Homo sapiens: one gene and its partners. The protein of the gene in region 3 interacts with the protein of the main gene of each other region in a pairwise test. Each region holds a gene or a part of one and is shown on either strand. Other genes may lie near its edges.

Region 1 (4,006 bases), on a different chromosome or scaffold from region 3:
ATCTATGAACATCAAGGTCTCCTTGGAACAGATGTTCTGTGAACAATTTATAAAACTCCCTCCTGTTAGACACTTAGGTTGATTCCATTTTTAAATCAATTACTGAATAAAACACACTCCATCGTGTGGATGAAATGCTACCTTAATTTGTCAAAGCTATCATTTTCTAAACTTTTCTTTTTAATTCAAATCATTAATATTTTGTGGCCAGATCAATACTGATTCATTGTTTTAAGCTTCAAATGCATTATACAGTTGGGCAGAACACATTTCCTCTCATCAATCTTCTTTTCCAGGATTTGTCAGATATTCCTGACATTAATTCACTACTAATATGCACAGTTTCTCTAATCATGGTCAACAAAGATCTGACAGTGCATTGTCCCTAAACGACCCATACTTGCCTCACTGACACCATGTGGCCCACTTCCCATCTATAATCTATGTCTGGGTGTGAAGCCCTTCCCATATGATCCCCCGAATGGAACTTCACAAGTTCGAATTCACTGGGTCACAGTGTGATAGCGTGAAGATGGGAGGACGTTAAGGGAAGGCTATGGGTGAGTTGGGAAATGTGTTAGGCAGGGTCAGAGATTACCACATCCTAAAAACAACACTTAAGGCGGGAGATGACAAAACAATCAATGAATAACATGACTTTTTCCAGTGAAAGTGCCATATCTAATCCTTTTCCATTTTTGTTCTCTGAGCTTCTTTCTTAGGGAAGATCCTTCTTGAGAAGCCCCTGCTGAGTATTAGGAAAATGCATTTCAGGACCTCTCATCAACACACCCTCTTTCTTTACCACAACCACATATATGGGGGCATAACTCAACATGTGTAAAAGACAATCTTCTGCTTTTCACTGAACCTCCAGGAATTCAGGACAATAAACCTCTACATGCAGACCAACAGGTGAGTTTTTCTGCCCCTTCTTTCATAACACCGTTCTTCCCTAGTGAAGTCCACACACATCCTTACATGGCAGCTGTGGGTATATCAACTGGTCTGACCCCTTTTAGTCACAGAGCCTGAAGTCTGCTAGTACCTGCTGAGCACAGTGTCATGGGTGAGAATGGGCAAGGCTTTTTCTTTCTCTGGTTCCTGAACTTCCCAGGCTCTCTCACTTCTGGATCCTGAATACCCAAATCCCAAGCTTCCTTCCCAGAACCAACACCTCCTCCTCATTAGAAAGATACCTTTGTTGTGTGCTTACTTTATAAAGTCTTGCTCTTTCCCTGTCCACTGCCTTGTGTCACTATGTGTGTGTCTTGGGGCCGGTGGAAAGGTGAACAGAAGCCAGTAGAGAGTAACAAGCACCAGCTTCACAGGAATGGCATGACCTTAATACGATAGTGGCAGTTTTCCCTTAACATCCCTGCCCCCTAAAGATTTCAGATCATATGTCACACTCTTAAGTAACAGCGATTTGTCTTTCACGGTTTTAATCATATTGATTAAAAGCATTTGTCTTCTCCAGAACATCACATTAAGTCATCAAAAAATATAAACCTTAAAAAGATGTAATTATTGGAACTGAAAAACATAAAAGGTGAGCTTTGGAAATATCTTTGAGCAGTCTATTCATTATGAACACATGTAATCTGTTGGAACAAAGTTCTAGGACAATCCAGGTCATCCTTCAATATTTGCAGAAAACAGCACAAAGAAAACTTGATACTTAAACTTAGTTGGAAACTTTATGCCACAGCCATTAAATACAGAGATCATATAAAGGAATAGAGGAAGCTGTTGAATACTAAACTAACTCAAATCATCATTATCCTTACGAAGTGCACACTGAATTAATGTAAAAAGCATTTAGTAAACAAAAAGTATTTTCAATATACAATTAAGACTGAAAAGTATTGAGGCCTCATAAGCTGAACCTGACACAATAAATTTAAAAGGGAAACTAATTTGGAAATCAGAAAACCATCTAAAGAATTTGGGAATTAGGCTTCTGCTGCCCTCTCTGCTACTGACGGTCAAGGCCTCCTCATTGTATTCTGTCCTCCATATCTCTGCTGATTCCCATTTTGTCTATTTCCATTTACCCCACTACTACTTGCTCAGGTCACTCTCCTTCATTGTCGGTGTTTGTTCAAATTCCTCAGACCCATCCACTTCCCATCTAAACTTCCCTCCCCTTTTCTCGCTCGTTGGCTCTACCTCCCTCCTCTGTTTTCTCCTCACTCTCCTGCCCCACCTCGACATCCACAGCGAGGCAATGAAGAAGCCCCTGCCAAGGAAGAGCCCGCTTCTCAGTGGGACACCGGGAAGGTAAACACCCAACAGTCACCGCTAGTGGGAGGCGATTGTGCAGAAGCACGAGGGTTGTTACAGGATCGGGCAGGTCCCCTACCCCAGTCTCGGACTCAGGGTCCTGTCTGAGGCGGCCACCCCGAAGCGTGGGGTTTGCGGAGACGTAGGGCCTGGCGGAGGGAAGGATGGGGAAGCATCTCAGGGAGGACTGGCGTCTGCCGAATCCCAGGGCTGCCCTGAGGGGCCAAGAGGGGCGAGGGTGGGGACGATGGAAGACAAGCCACATGCCGAATCGGGACCTGAGGCCGCGCGCGATAGGATGGGCGGACGGTGAAGAGAACTAGGGTGGAAGGGCCGGACAGGGGCGACCTCAGTGACGGAACCGGACACAGACGCAGATCTGGCAGCTGGGCGACAGGCTTCGGAGCATTTCCGGGCGTCGCGGGACTCCCCGCCGACAGGAGGGCGGTTGCCGAGCCTGTGACATCCGCGGAGACCAGCAGACCCCGGGTGTGGAGGACGCCGCAGGAAGGGAACTGCGTGGCTGGGTTTGGCCACAAAAAGCGGAGGGCACTCACCCGAGCGGACCTCGGCTCCGGAGAATCCGTTTCCGGGTCAACAAAAAACGTCGCGCGAGGGGCGGGGCCCGTACGTGCAGGGAGGGGAGGCAGAGAAAAAGGCGGGGCCGGGCCGGGGCGGGGTCTCGGGCAGGGGCGGGGAGCTTACCGACCTCCCGCCCCCGCTGCGCGCGTTTCTGGCCCTGCCAGTGTCTCCGCCGGTTGAAAGCGCGTGTCTGCGTCGGGTTCTGTTGGAGTGCGTTCGGTGTGCCGTGGGTCCGCGCTGCTTCCACCCAACTTCCTGTTAGGTAAGAGGCGCGTGAGGCTCCTGTGCCGGGGGCGGTGCTGCTCCCGAGTCGGCGCGCGGCGGGGACGCGAGTCCGTAGGTGCTGGCGGGAGCGAGAGTCGGGTGGGGACCCTCGCGAGCCCGCACTCCGCCTCTGGGTAGCAGCCTCTTCGGCCCCACACGGCGTGACGCGCGCTCGGGCTCCGCGTTCGCGTCGAGGCAGAGGCGTAGTAGGGGTCGGGCCCAGGGCTGGAGGGGCCGGGACCGGGCGGGGTGCCGCCCTGGACACCGCGCCGGCAGCTGTTCCGCGCGGGTTCATGTCATTCCTATTTTCAACCTGTCCTGCTCCGCACCTGAGATGATTTATAAATTCGGTACCTTTGGGACAGGCGTGGATGACATCCCATAATTTACTTCGTTATTAATTTCTAAATGTAATACATACCACTATCTAAAAGTATTTTTTAATTTGAAATATATTTGTATACGTATACATGTATATTTATTTATTTCTGAATTTTATCTCGTACATATAATGAGGCTCGTAAAGTGGATACTGTTCAGGACATAGGTGGATTTTGCTTTTAAGTAGTAAAGACTTAATTGGTGACTTACTGGGGCTATTTGATAAGGATTTTTTTTTAATGAACATTAAAAACAGTGAAATTGTATTTCCGGATTTCGTTAGCTTCATTTATATCTTAATTGGTGAAAACTGTAAGTTAATAACTCATTTTTATTTCCTTTGGAGATTCTTAAGTTTGTGCTACCAATGATTATTTCCAAAAAAGGCACACTTCTGGTTTTCCCAGAACTAATGCTAGCTTCTCAATCTTTTGAGTTTACTTGATATTAATGTTTGACCTCAAATCATGTCACATTTTTGAAGAAAACTTTC
Region 2 (3,519 bases), on a different chromosome or scaffold from region 3:
ATCAGCCTGGCCAACACGGTGAAACCCAATCTCTACTAAAAATACAAAAATTAGCCGGGCTTGGTGGTCTGCGCCTGTAATCCCAGCTACTCAGGAAGCTGAGGCAGGAGAATCACTTGAACCCAGGAGGCGGAGGTTGCAGTAAGCCCAGACTGTGCTATTGCACTCCAGTCTGGGTGATAAGAGTGAAACTCTGACTCAAAAAAAAAAAAAAAAAAAGTAGAATTTCACAGAGTGGAAGACAAAAAAGGAAACAACAACAGCAATGAATAGAAAATAGTTATAAATACGATAGATACTAAACATTATATCAATACTCATTTTAAATATGAATGGTCTAAATATAGCAATTAAAAGACAGACTGTCAGGGTGGATTAAAAAAAGATCTAACTGTATATTGCCCACAAGAAGCTCACTTTATGGCTTACACCTATAATCCCAGCACTTTGGGAGGCCAAGGCAGGCAGATCCCTTCAGGTCAGGAGATCAAGACCATCCTGGCCAACATGGTGAAACCCCATCTCTACTAAAAATACAAAAAATTAGCCAGGTGTGGTGGTGCATGCTTATAATCCCAGCTACTTGGGAGGCTGAGGCAGGAGGTTCACTTGAACCCGGGAGTTGGAGGTTGCAGTGAGCCGAGATTGTGCCACTGCACTCCAGCCAGGGTGACAGAGTGAGACTCTATCTCAAAAAAAAAAAAAAAAAAAAAAGAAAAAGAAACTCACTTTAAATATAAATATAAAAACAGATAGATTAAATGGATGGAGTAAGACATGCCATGCTAACATTAATCAAAAGAAAGTTGGAGTAGCTATTTTAATTTCAGACAGAGCAGACTTCTGAGTGAGGAATATGCAGGGATAAAGAGCATCATTACACAATAATAAGGAGGTCGATTATCCAAAGAGACATAACAATTCCTAATATATATGCTCCTAAAAACAAAGTGTCAAAAACCTAATAGAACTGCAAGGAGAAACAGGCAAATGCACTATTTGGAGACTTTAACATCCCCTCTATCAGTAATTGACAGGTCCAACAGTCAGAGAATCAGTAAGCATATAGTTGAACTGAGAAGCACCATCAACTGACTGGATCTAATTAACACATATACAATACTTCACCCCACAACAGCAGGATACACATTCTTCTTAAAAGATACCAGTAAGAAAATAGTAAGACAAACCATAGGCTGGGAGTAAATATTTGCAAATCATATATCTGATAAAGGACTATTATCCAAAATATATAAAGAACTCTTATAGTTCAATAAGAAGATGAACAATTGAATTTAAAAATTGGCAAAAGACTTGAAAAGACCTCTCTCCAAAGAAGGCTTATGAATAGCTAACAAGTATACTAATGATTAGGAAAATACAAATTAAAACCACGGTGAGATACCATTAGACAGCCACAAGAATGGCTATAATCAAAAGGACAGACAATATTCAATGTTGGCAAGTATGTGGAAAAACTGAAACCTTCATATGCTGCTGGTGGCAATGTAACAAGGTGCAGCCACTTTGGAAAATAATTGGCAGTTTCTTACACTTACCAGAAAACCCAGAATTCCACAATGAGAAATCCATCCAAGAGAAATGAAAAGATATGTCCACACAAAACTTATATGTGAATGTTTATAGAAGCATTTCCACAATAGCCAAAAATGGGACATCCAAATGTACATCAACTGGTCAATCAATAATTAGCTATTGTACGATTTTCTTACGCAAAATGGCCAGAAAAGACAAATTTATAGAAAAAGATGCTGGAAGTGGGAGCAGGGATTGGCTGCAAACAAACTTTTGGGGATGATGGAAATGTAAAACTGGATGGTGCTGATGGTTGCCTGACCATAAAAATTTACTAAAAATCATTTAGTTGTTCACCTGCAATGGGTGAATTTTGTGCAGTAGTATATAAATTAATCTTGTGTGTGTGTGTGTGTGTGTGTGTTTGTGTGTTTGAGACAAGGTCTCGCTCTGTTCCCCAGGCTACAGTGCAGTGGTGTGATCATGGCTCACTGCAGCCTTGACCTCCCAGACTCAAGTGATCCTCTCGCCTTAGCCTCCCTAGTAGCTGGGACTACAGGCCTGTGCTACTATGCCTGACTAATGTTTTTTATTTTTTTGTAGAGACGGGTTCTCACTACATTGCCCAGGCTGGTCTCAAACTCCTGGCTCAAACAGTCCTCTTGCCTCAGCCTCCCAAAGTGCTGGGATTACAGGAACGAGCCACTGTACCCAGCCCTGTAAATTACATCTTAATTTTTTTTTTTTTTGAGACAAGATCTCAGTATTTGAGATTAGCCCAGGTTAGTCTCAAATTTTTGGGTTCAAGTGATCCCCACACTTCAGCCTCTGGAGTAGCCTGGATTACAGGTGCATGCCATAGCCCCTGGCTTATAAATTTATTTCAAAGGTGAAAACGGACATTCTTGGGCCCCACCCTAGAATATCGATTTGAAATTTCTAGACATAAAGCTTAAGAATATGCATTTTAACAAGTTTACTGGATGATTCTCTTGTACAAAGAAAAGGCTTAGGGTAACCCTACCCCCTACCCAGGAGTCAATCATGTTCTGACTGATTTTAAATTAATTTTAAATTAGAAAATTCAGGTAAGAAATGCAAGAATTTGTTTAAATTAGGAGCTTCCCAAACTGGTATTAAGGGAAATCTCTTCTGAGAGTTGTAAATAGGTAAACTGAGTACAAAGTCTCCCTTTGCACAAAAAAAGGTTGCTTTAATTGTTAAAGTCAAGCAGGTTTCTTTTCTGTGTTCTTCTTTTCTTTTGGCTGGAATTTCCATATTTTCAATATGCTAATGTTTGTTTTGATTTGTCAACTGAGAGACAAAAATATGGAAGACACAAAATTTCCAAAGTTTATTTGATCACGGAACGTCCCCCCTCTGTGAGGGTGGGACTTCTTTGCCACGGAAAAGCCATCTTAGGACATTGTTATTTTGAGGCTGTTACTTATAATAGCTTATGTATGTATATCCTTCTTACCATATTACCATACCGCCTGAACAAATGTCCAGGTAAACCATTCAATTTAAGCATACATTCATTTTATTCCAAATTCACTGCCCTATATAAAAGTTCTCTCTACCACTATAAAACGCAGCTCAGGAATAGGGTCCTAAAGTATATTGTGGGATTCACACAAGTGTGGGCCGGCCCAGTGCAGGACCAAGATTGACACAGGAAATCACACTCACCTGTCCACAATGATACCATGAGGGATGAGGACATACTCCAAGTCTCCATAATAGTGCTGTGGGTACGTGAATAAATTCAAGTCATACCCTGGCCAATCATCCATAATCTGCAAATCAAATTATTTTGGTTATGGTATTTTTTCATCAGAAATTTGTTTAAAACATAACAAAAGAGTATCACTTGAGAGGAGAATTCCCTCAACTTATGAAAAGTTTAGTGGAACAAGGTTATTTGTTTCCACAACCTGATACAAGGCGCAGTACTAAAGTGAACAGAGCACTCCATTCCCA
Region 3 (3,519 bases):
AGGCGGGTGGATCACCTGAGGTCGGGAGTTCGAGACCAGCCTGACCAACGTGGAGAAACCCCGCCTCTACTAAAAATACAAAATTAGCCGAGCGTGATGGCACATGCCTGTAATCCCAACTACTCAGGAGGCTGAGGAAGGAGAATCGCTTGAACCCGGGAGGTGGAGGTTGCAGTGAGCTGAGATCACACCATTGCACCTTTAGCCTAGGCAACAAGAGCAAAACTCCATCTCAAAAAGAAAAAAAAAAAAAAGAGAAAGTGCCTCATAAACTGTGGGTTTTTAATTCGCTCCAAACCAGATATGAAGATCTTGGAGGGGAAGATGAGGATGAGGAACAGAGATATAGAGGTGTCTGGGGATAGTTCCTGAGGCTCCCTGGGAAAAGCTGAGGCAGAGGCTGAAGGAGAGGAAGGGCTGGGCATAGCATGGGGCTGGCATGGCTGGAGCAGAGGATGGCGCTGGAGGCTACTGTTGGATTCTTTCAGAAAACATATGACCGCTGCCCCCTGGAGCTGGTCCGCTGCATCCGGCACATTCTGTACAATGAACAGAGGCTGGTCCGAGAAGCCAACAATGTGAGTGTCCCTTGGGGATGGGGAGGAGTGTTGAGAAGTCCCTCCATATGCCTTTCTCTCCAGAAACAACTGTGTTTATATAAAACAGCAGCACGAGGAGAGCACCAAGAAGATGAGGGACGTGGGCAAGTGTAAGAGGTGGCAGCATTGCACGCCGGGGTGGAGTGACCCCCTGGATCCAGTCCCTGGCTCTACCACTTACTAGCTGTGTGACTTGAGCAAGTTGCTTAATCTCTCTGAGCCTCTGTTCCTGTTTTTTTTTCTTTTTTCTTTTTTCTTTTTTTTGAGACGGATTCTTGCTCTGTCACCCAGGCTGCAGTGCAGTGGCGTGATCTCGGCTCACTGCAAGCTCTGCCTTCCAGGTTCACACCATTCTCCTGCCTCAGCCTCCCGAGTAGCTGGGGCTACAGGCGCCCACCACCATGCCCGGTTAATTTTTTGTATTTTTAGCAGAGATGGGGTTTCACTGTGTTAGCCAGGATGGTCTCAACCTGACCTCGTGATCCGCCCACCTCGGCCTCCCAAAGTACTGGGGTTACAGGCGTGAGCCACCACGCTTGGCGCCTACTGTTTTTTCCCCCCCGAGATGCAGTCTTGCTCTGTTGCCCAGGCTGGAGTGCAGTGATGTGATCTCTGCTCACTGCAACCTCTGCCTCCCAGGTTCAAGCAATTCTCTTGCCTCAGCCTCCCGAGTAGCTGGGATTACAGGTGCCCACCACCATGCCCGGCTAATTTTTTTTGTATTTTTAGTAGAGACGTGGTTTCACTATGTTGGCCAGGCTGGTCTTGAACTCCTGACCTCATGATCCACCCGCCTCGGCCTCCCAAAGTGTTGGGATTACAGGCGTGAGCCACCGTGCCCGGCCTGTTCCTACTCTTGTAAAATGGAGATAGCAATCATACCTATCTGTGTCAGAAGAACTAACACAGGCAGGCTCAGAGAAGTGAGGCCCAGGGAGGGGTAACAGGGACACATCTCCCCAGTTCTGAAATAATAAAGGCACTGGGCATCTACATGGACAATGGCACAGTGCTGTACTATCTGCAATAGAGCAAAATGAATTTCACAACATGACGTGACAGAAATCTTAGAACAGTGACCGGAGCACAGGTCATATTTATTATTTCTTTCTTTATTTGTTTGTTTGTTTATTTATTTTTGAGACTGAGTCTCACTCTATCATCTAGGCTGGAGTGCAGTGGCGTGATCTCGGCTCACTGCAACCTCCACCCCTTGGGTTCAAGAGATTCTCATGCCTCAGCCTCCCAAGTAGCTAGGATTACAGGGGCCCACCACCATGCCCGGCTAATTTTTGTATTTTTAGTAGAGACAGGGTTTCACCCTGTTGGCCAGGCTGGTCTCGAATTCCTGACTTCAAGTGATCCACCTGCCTCGGCCTCCCGAAGTGCTGGGATTACAGGCATGAGCCACCACGCCCGGCCTATTACGTATTTATTGTTGTGGACATGGATTTCAGGATTTACTCAGTAGACATTTATTGAGGTCTTACTGTGTGTCCGATGCTGGGCTATCATCAGAGAAACACATAAAGGCCTGGTTCTTGCCTGGAAGGAATTCTGGCAGTGATGGATTCTCTAGAGATGAGCTGAGTGCTAAGGGGGCCTAGGTGGAAAAAGCACCCAACTCAGATTGGGGCAGGCTGGCAGGGGAGCGTCCTGTGGACAGGCATGTCTGAGCTACAGTGGAGAAAGGCAGGAGAGGAGGGATGAATTTTCTAATGAAAAGACAGCAGCTGCGAGAGCAGGAGGGCATGAATCTTCTTATCACATTGGAAGACTTGTAAGTGGTCAGTGTAACTGGGGAGAAGGAACCAAGTGGGGAGTTGCCATGGATAAAAATAGATAGAGAGGGCCAGGCGTGGTGGCTCACATCTGTAATCCCAGCACTTTGGGAGGCCAAGGTGGGCGGATCACCTGACGTCAGAAGTTCGAGACCAGCCTGGCCAACATGGTGAAACCCAGTCTCTACTAAAAAATACAAAAATTAGCTAGGCGTGGTGGCGGGCGCCTGTAATCCTAGCTACTCGGGCGGCTGAGGCAGGAGAATTGCTTGAACCCAGGAGGGGGATGTTGCAGTGAGCTGAGATTGCACCACTTCACTCCAGCCTGGGCAACAGAGCGAGACTCTGTATAAAAAAAAAAAAAATAGGGGTTAGAAACCAGGTCACAAAGGGTCTTCCAGCACAGCCCCTGTGTCCCTGACTTGTTGCCATCACAGAGCTATCTGCAAACCTAAAAATGACTTCAGCCTCATTGACAAATCCATGTCCATGGTGCTGGTGCTGTCATGGTCTGGGAGCTCATTCCTTCCTCCAACCATACAACTGTTCCTGAACACCCCTGGCATTCTAGGGCTTGGGGATTCTGTAGTTCACAGGAAAGGCAAGGTCCTAGCCCTTGGGAACCTCACATCCTTGTGCAGGGAGACAGACAGAAACATGTAAGCAAATACAAGAACAACACACTTTTAGATAGGACTACTGTGAATTGGCTCGTCAGAGATGACCCCTCTGCAATGGTACCAGTTAAAGTGCTTTGCCTCAGGAGGATCTGATGCCAGAATGTTCCAGACTGTTGGAACAATAAGTGCAAGGGCCCCAGGGCAGGAACATGCCTGTGTGTTCAAGGAACAGAAACAGAAAGCACACATTCCCAGCGAGCTGGGGTTGGAGGTAGGCAGGGCTATGGCCAGCAGACACCATGGGAAGGGGTTTGGATTTTATTCTGAGAACAGTTCATTGGAAAGCCTCTGAGGACTTGTTCCTCTTCATCCATGTGCTCCCTCCCTTTGTGACCTGGTTTCTACCCCTCTCTCTCTATTTTTTTTTTTTTTGAAACGGAGTCTCGCTGTGTTGCCAAGGCTAGAGTGCAGTGGCGCAATCTCGGCTCACTGCAACATCCCCCTCCTGGGTTCAAGCGA
Region 4 (3,519 bases), on a different chromosome or scaffold from region 3:
GCTTCTCCCCACAGCCCCTTGTTCATATATGCACATCTCTTGCCCTCAGTGGAGGGGATTTGACGGTGGTGTTCGCATTTCTCTATGTTCCTGACTCTCTTGCAGATCATTGCTGAAGGTGCCAATGGGCCAACAACTCCAGAAGCTGACAAGATCTTCCTGGAGAGAAACATTATGGTTATTCCAGTAAGTCATCTATATTTATTAGGCTTTATATGTACTTAGAATCATAATAGTCTTTTGCAAGGAATTTGGAGGAAGAGAGGAATTATTAGTCTCCAAGCTCTAGTGAATTCATCTTTTTCACTTTTGAGAAAATATAGTAGAAGCATGGTTAATTCTAAGCCTGTTAATTTTCACTTTGATCGAAACATTTATTCCAATTTCAGGCTCTTTACTGAATGTCTTTAGCCTTCTAAGAGTCTGGTTATATAAATGTGTACTGTGTTAGAAACACTATTCTAACTAAAGCTCTTAAGATTTTCTATATGATTCCTAACCTTATGCATTTCAAGTGCCCTTTCCAGCTTTACTCAGAAAACTAATATGAGGAACACGTGCTCAGGTTTTTTAGCAAGTAAAAATGAGTCTACACCAAAAAGTTACTAGAAATTAATGTGGGCTTGGAATATATTTTAAAGAACCCCCTTTGCTGAAAGCACTTAAGACATTTAATGTAACTGAAATGGGCTACCCTTAGGTAATAGGAGAAAGAATCCTGTCTTCTGAGAGGCCCTGTGGACAGTCCAGTCCAACTGGTTGGTGGGCAAGCCATTTAGTCTGAGAACTAACTTCTGGTAGAGAAGAGGCTCCAACCAAAGATTATTAACTTTCCTTGATTAATAAGCCAAAAAATGATTTTTTTTTTTTCCTAAATAGAAAAAGCCTTAGATGGAATTGGGTGGGATGGGAAGGAGTGTTAATTAAGTGTGAAATTCCTGATACTGGCTAAAATATATTTGCGATATTTAAAGTCCAGTCTACCTTGGTATTGAAATTAAGGTCTTAGGTTCATTTTCAGCTTTTACGAAAACCATCATCTTCTAATTTCTTTGTCTTATTTTTGTGCATAGGATCTCTACTTGAATGCTGGAGGAGTGACAGTATCTTACTTTGAGTGGCTGAAGAATCTAAATCATGTCAGCTATGGCCGTTTGACCTTCAAATATGAAAGGGATTCTAACTACCACTTGCTCAGTGAGTATCGATAATCTTGTTCGCCAAAACTCATCTTTTGAGCCAGCTGAAAGGCTGTAAAAAGGTCCACTTAAGAGAACTGATCCCTTTGGGAAAGAATTGAGTCTCAGAAAAGAAAATAATATTTTGTCTCATGAAACTTAGACCAAAAATGCACAATGTCTTTCTGGATATTAACTCTCCCATATATTATATCCAGAGTTTTATTCTGTGATGTAATATTCACAGAATATAATCTACATTTTTTTTTTCTTTTTTTGAGAGGGAGTCTCGCTCCGTCGCCGAGGCTGGAGTGCAGTGGCACGAACTCGGCTTACTGTAGCCTCCGCCTCCCAGGTTCAAGCAATTCTCCTGCCTCACCCTCCCAAGTAGCTGGGGCTACAGGCACTCACCGCCACGCCCGGCTAATTTTTGTATTTTTAATAGAGACGGGGTTTCACCATGTTGGCCAGGATAGCCTTGATCTCCTGACCTCATGATCCGCCTGCCTCAGCCTCCCAAAGTGCTGGGATTACAGGCGTGAGCCACTGTGCCCAGCCAATAATATTTTTTTAAGTGTGATTTTAAAACTCCACTGTCGATACTAATTTCTGTCTCTGGTTGCTCTTAGTAAAGGCCTATCTAGTGTCAAGAATTGTTTTTGAGACTCCTGATGAGAATACTTGTTTTTCTTTGACTAGAGTAAGCTCCACAGTTAAGAGTAGAATTTCTCATCTAGTTGAAATAAGACCAAGACCTCCTACTGAGCTTCTGTACTCAGCCCACTGTGAGAATCTGGGTGAAGTGTTCCATCTATTTCCTTTTCTTTTTCCCCCAGCGTTTTCTTTTTAATAGAGCCAAGGAAAAACCCTGGTAATGGGTGTTATGGAAACAGAGCAGTGACCTAAATTCACATTTATATAGGAAATTGGCAATGTGTTTTATTCCTTCCTGACTGAGTTTTAAATGATTAACCCTTTTATGTCATTAAAACTCTGTATAAGGCCAGGCGCAGTGGCTCACGCCTGTAATCCCAGCACTTTGGGAGGCCAAGGCAGATGAATCACGAGGTCAGGAGGTCGAGACCATCCTGGCTAACACGGTGAAACCCCGTCTCTACTAAAAATACAAAAAATTAGCTGGGCGTGGTGGCGCGCACCTGTAGTCCCAGCTACTCGCAAGGCTGAGGCAGGAGAATGGCGTGAACCCGGGAGGCAGAGTTTGCAGTGAGCTGAGATCACGCCTCTACACTCCAGCCTGGGTGACAGACCACGACTCTGTCTGTATAAGTTTTTGGGTTACAGTTATAGTTTGGGACTACTTTTGATTCTACTTTTTTTTTTTTTTTTCTGTTAGCAATATCTTGATCTCTTGTTATTTTTTTGTAGTGTCTGTTCAAGAGAGTTTAGAAAGAAAATTTGGAAAGCATGGTGGAACTATTCCCATTGTACCCACGGCAGAGTTCCAAGACAGGATATCGGTGAGTGTGGTGACCCCACAGTTGTACTTCACACATGCTCCCTGCTCTTTCCTTCAGACAGAGCTGGTTAGATGGATTTCATCTGCGGCATAGTCTTTGTAATTAGCTTGACAGTAAGTGCGTGACATGTGTGTTTTGTACCTTTCCTTTTCATTACATTCTAAAACTGGAGTAAGAATCCTACTGACTACTAACAAATATAAAATAAATAAATTTGGTATTTTTCACGCACGTGTTTTAACAGTGAAGGATTATTATGTATTTTAATTATTTTAAGCTTCAGAGAAATAGGAAGAATTGAAAAGCAAGCATTAGATTGAACTATATGGGAGTCCAAGAGTTTGAGACCAACCTGGGGAACATAGTGAGTCCCCATCTCTACAAAAATAAAGAAAGAAACAAGAGGCCAGGCATGGTGGCACACGCCTGTAATCCCAGCACTTTGGGAGGTCAAGGCGGGTGGATCACGAAGTCAAGTCATCGACACCATCCTGGCCAACATGGTGACCCCGTCTCTACTAAAAATACAAAAATTAGCCAGGCGTGGTGCTACACGCCTATAGTCCCAGCTACTTGGGAGGCTAAGGCAGGAGAATCACTTGAACCCGGGAGGTGGAGGTTGCAGTTAGCCGAGATTGCACCACTGCACTCTAGCCTGAGCAACAGAGAGATACTCCGTTCCCGCCGCCGCCACCCCCCTCCCCCCGCCAAAAAAAAGAAAGGAGGGATGGAGGGAGGGAAACTTCTTTACCAGTAAATGATGGAAGACAGGAAAAACAAAAGTCCATAACACATAAGCCTGGGGGAAAAATTTAACCTCATTGTTAAAGAAATACAAATTGAAAAAGAGTTTTTTTTTTTTA
Region 5 (3,519 bases), on a different chromosome or scaffold from region 3:
TAAATTGTGGAAGGGCCAAACTAGAAAGAGCTGACCATTGAGGAAATTTTGTATGAATTCAGGTAGCAGATGATGGAAAAATGGACTAGAAAGTGGATAGAATTACCTATGCCTACTTTTACAGTAATATGACTAACTTCATATTGTGTTGTGTGGAAAAAAGTTAATACAAATAAACCACTTAAAATGTCTCTGGCATATAGTTAGTGATTCAGAAATATTATTTTGCAATTATGGTTATTTTTGTTATTACTAATACTATGAATTACTTAACATGTGTAAGTCACTTGAGATATTATTCCTCATTTAATAGAAACTAATTATTCAGCATTTCAAGATTATATTCTCTAACAAAGTCCTATGGTCTTCTATATGACAGATACCCTGTAGACTTGTTTAAAATAAGACATATCAGTTTTGACAGTAAGATGAGCAAAATGAAATTGTAAAATTCTACCACAAGTGACAAGGATCTTCATCAGTATTCTAACTTATAAGAAAATAATCCCTTACCGATATAAATGTGTGATTCTATTAGTATTTGCAGCCAGACCCAGTGTTCACTTGATTTTACTAAAGCATTTAAATCATTCTGCGTTGAGATCCCAGAGGTTTACATCTTAGCATAAACATACCCTATTAGAGCAGGTGTTTTCTGCCTTAAGACAAGCAACCCAGTAAAGCTTCCTGGGATAGCTTGTGTCTCAACATCATAAGTGCCTGAGAGAGAAGCACAGAAAAAATGAACAACGCATGTATAATAAAGACCAAATAATTTCTACCACTCGTATCTGAATCGTGCCCTCAGTTTACAATAATAAAAGAATTCTGTCATCATATAACATTATATTCTTTATGGAGGAATATAAGAATGTAATATATTTTAAATTGATATCACCCTTCTAAGAAATAGGTAGAAAGTAAGCATTTTTATTACATTATGTAATCTCTTAAGAGATAATTTTTGCCTACCTCCTTATTAACAGCAACATGAAACTGATATTTTATTCCATGGTTAAAATCCAATATCTATGTTGAATGCAAATTGTATGGGCTTTATATGGTAACTTTCTAAAGAGACAAAAGCTGAGATAAGACTAATGAAAATTCTGTCCCACCCTATCCTACTCTTGAAAGATTTCCCCACTCACATTAAGGGAAACTGACAGTGCCAGTAAGAGGGAGAAGAGAGTACGAGGTGTGGAAGGATAAGAAAAAGATTGAGTCGTAGTACATGTGATAATTACTAATACTAGCTGTTGTTACTAACTTGTAGAAAGCTTTGAATGCAAGTCAATGGTTGTGAAAGCCATTCTCTAATTGTTTATCATGTAAAATAACTGCAAACCCAATTTGCTTTCTATTCAATTAAATATTAGATTCTCAGATAATTTATGCATACTTTAAGAGAAAAGGACACTTGGCAAATGTATTAAGTATTAAAAATGCATATAGCCATTGGTTTTATAATATATTCACATGAAATCATACAGAGAAAAAATAAATCAAGATGTACATATTTAATATTTATGGAAAATATTCATAAAATAAACATCAAAAGTAATCAAACATCTGAAATTAAGGAATAATTAAAAACATATACTAGATGCATACTATAGCATTACAATAATTTTATCAATAAAATATTCAGTTACAGTCAGCTATAATACAAGTAAAGTGAGGTAGAAAATTATAAATATTACAGGCTGACACGTTTTTTGTAGGAGGAAAAGGTATATACAATCAGAATAAAATTGTCTAAATAAACGTCACAAGTGTACATTGAACTATAAAGATAGAACAAAAGCCATGATGAAAACATATGTAGTTTACAAGGTGACATCTCTCGACAAAAATTTTAGAAAAAAAATTATTTTCTTTTTAGAACTTGCACTACTTCTATAAAATACCTTACATACATAGTGTATTATTATTTTAAAGTTGTCACAGAATGGGAAACAACCAGTCCACATCAATAATGAATCCCCTTTAGGGATTATATTACTTTAACACTGGGTGGATGAAGGCGGCTCTGGACATCAAGCCACTGAAACAAAACACTGAACGTAAGTTACATCAAATGTGGCTACAGGTAACTGCAATTACGCACAATACCTGGATATCCTATGTATTACCTTGAATAGCAGAACAATGACTCTAACATCATTAACACTGATGTCTTAAGATTAAAAATCATATTTTAAAAAATGCTTAGCCATATGTGGTCTGCAAATAAACATTTGGAATCTTTTTTCTTTGTTTTGTAGAGAACACTTAAGAAAAAGTTTTACCCCAATGATTAAATCTGAAAGTATTTAAATTTCAAAATTGGCGTACATTGGGGAACACAGGTCAGAATGATTCCCAGTAAATTCCAGCCAAGTACATCTTCACTAAGATTTTTATGTAGTGTGGGTGATCTACTCAAGAGGGTGACCAAATCTCTGCAGAAAGTTCTGGCAGTCTCTCGCATTCTGGTGCAAGTGCTGCTGCCTCTGAGACACAGCAAAATGATGATGAGAATTCCTCACATGCAGTTATAAATAGCACATCAATTTAACAGTGTGATTTCAGGGAAAAATTGTTCCACTTAAACAATCACCTGAAAAATATAATCATTCGACTATGTAACTACATACTGTACGATTCTGTATTACAAATGAGAATACAGAATTATTTATAGAAATTTATAGAAATTCCAAACCACAACAGCAGACTCCATAATGTCAGTGATTCTTAACCACCACCTTTTACAGCTACTTTTTTTTCTCTTTTGAAAAAAGACTGGAAAACTCTGACAAACTTTAAGTGAAGTGTAAAGGATTATAGAATAAGATAAATGTAGGTTTACGTAATCCCAGCTGTGAGTAACTTTTCCTCAGTGCTCAGAGTCAGGGAAGTCAACCACTAATGACTTCAAACTAAAATAATTCTGTAGAAAACCTGCCTAAAATAAGCATATGTGATTTAGCGAGCAACAATATAGCATTAAAGCCAACTGGTGCCACTTTAAAGAACCTATATTAGTACTTATAATATGATAAGTGAAGAGTTTGGGTATCTCCTCAAATACTGTGTAATAACTCTATTTCATTTCTCCCTTTCACAAACGCACACACATACACACACACATATTTACACAAAGACCCTTAACAGAGGCAACCTATCTCATATTATACATATTGCAAAAAAAACTGAGTAATTGAGTCAGTTAAAAAACATCCTTTACTCCAATAATTCCTGATAAAACTTGATTTTCTCTCTTTTTATAACAATTCTTTCACAGTGCTTGCTGTGCTGATAATCTATTATGATAGAACAAATTCTTTTTTTTCACAGGAAATGGAAGAGTTTGTCCAGAGCTCTGGAGAAAATGGTGTTGTGGTGTTTTCTCTGGGGTCGATGGTCAGTAACACGTCAGAAGAAAGGGCCAATGTAATTGCATCAGCCCTTGCCAAGATCCCACAAAAGGTAAGATAAAATGTTTTAATGGTGTAAAAAACTACTGAAAGAGGCTGT

Evidence for each region.
Region 1: the proteins of STAT5A (region 3) and ZNF596 interact in a two-hybrid assay, tested with the Homo sapiens proteins (one large-scale study listed by BioGRID and IntAct).
Region 2: the proteins of STAT5A (region 3) and PRTFDC1 interact in a two-hybrid assay, tested with the Homo sapiens proteins (one large-scale study listed by BioGRID and IntAct).
Region 4: the proteins of STAT5A (region 3) and GLUD1 interact in a two-hybrid assay, tested with the Homo sapiens proteins (one large-scale study listed by BioGRID and IntAct).
Region 5: the proteins of STAT5A (region 3) and UGT2B4 interact in a two-hybrid assay, tested with the Homo sapiens proteins (one large-scale study listed by BioGRID and IntAct).

What each region holds. Positions count from the first base shown.
Region 1 is NC_000008.11:231,253-235,258, reverse strand, and holds the start of ZNF596 (zinc finger protein 596), read right to left. Parts: upstream 2,804-4,006; 5' UTR 2,565-2,803; exon of another isoform or gene 1-2,564. UniProt on the Homo sapiens protein: May be involved in transcriptional regulation.
Region 2 is NC_000010.11:24,939,102-24,942,620, forward strand, and holds part of PRTFDC1 (phosphoribosyltransferase domain-containing protein 1), read right to left. Parts: intron 3,336-3,519; coding exon 3,229-3,335; intron 1-3,228. UniProt on the Homo sapiens protein: Has low, barely detectable phosphoribosyltransferase activity (in vitro). Binds GMP, IMP and alpha-D-5-phosphoribosyl 1-pyrophosphate (PRPP). Is not expected to contribute to purine metabolism or GMP salvage.
Region 3 is NC_000017.11:42,291,484-42,295,002, forward strand, and holds part of STAT5A (signal transducer and activator of transcription 5A), read left to right. Parts: intron 1-488; coding exon 489-578; intron 579-3,519. UniProt on the Homo sapiens protein: Carries out a dual function: signal transduction and activation of transcription. Mediates cellular responses to the cytokine KITLG/SCF and other growth factors. Mediates cellular responses to ERBB4.
Region 4 is NC_000010.11:87,056,828-87,060,346, reverse strand, and holds part of GLUD1 (glutamate dehydrogenase 1, mitochondrial isoform a precursor), read left to right. Parts: intron 1-105; coding exon 106-186; intron 187-1,073; coding exon 1,074-1,197; intron 1,198-2,564; coding exon 2,565-2,656; intron 2,657-3,519. UniProt on the Homo sapiens protein: Mitochondrial glutamate dehydrogenase that catalyzes the conversion of L-glutamate into alpha-ketoglutarate. Plays a key role in glutamine anaplerosis by producing alpha-ketoglutarate, an important intermediate in the tricarboxylic acid cycle.
Region 5 is NC_000004.12:69,489,391-69,492,909, reverse strand, and holds part of UGT2B4 (UDP-glucuronosyltransferase 2B4 isoform 1 precursor), read left to right. Parts: intron 1-3,339; coding exon 3,340-3,471; intron 3,472-3,519.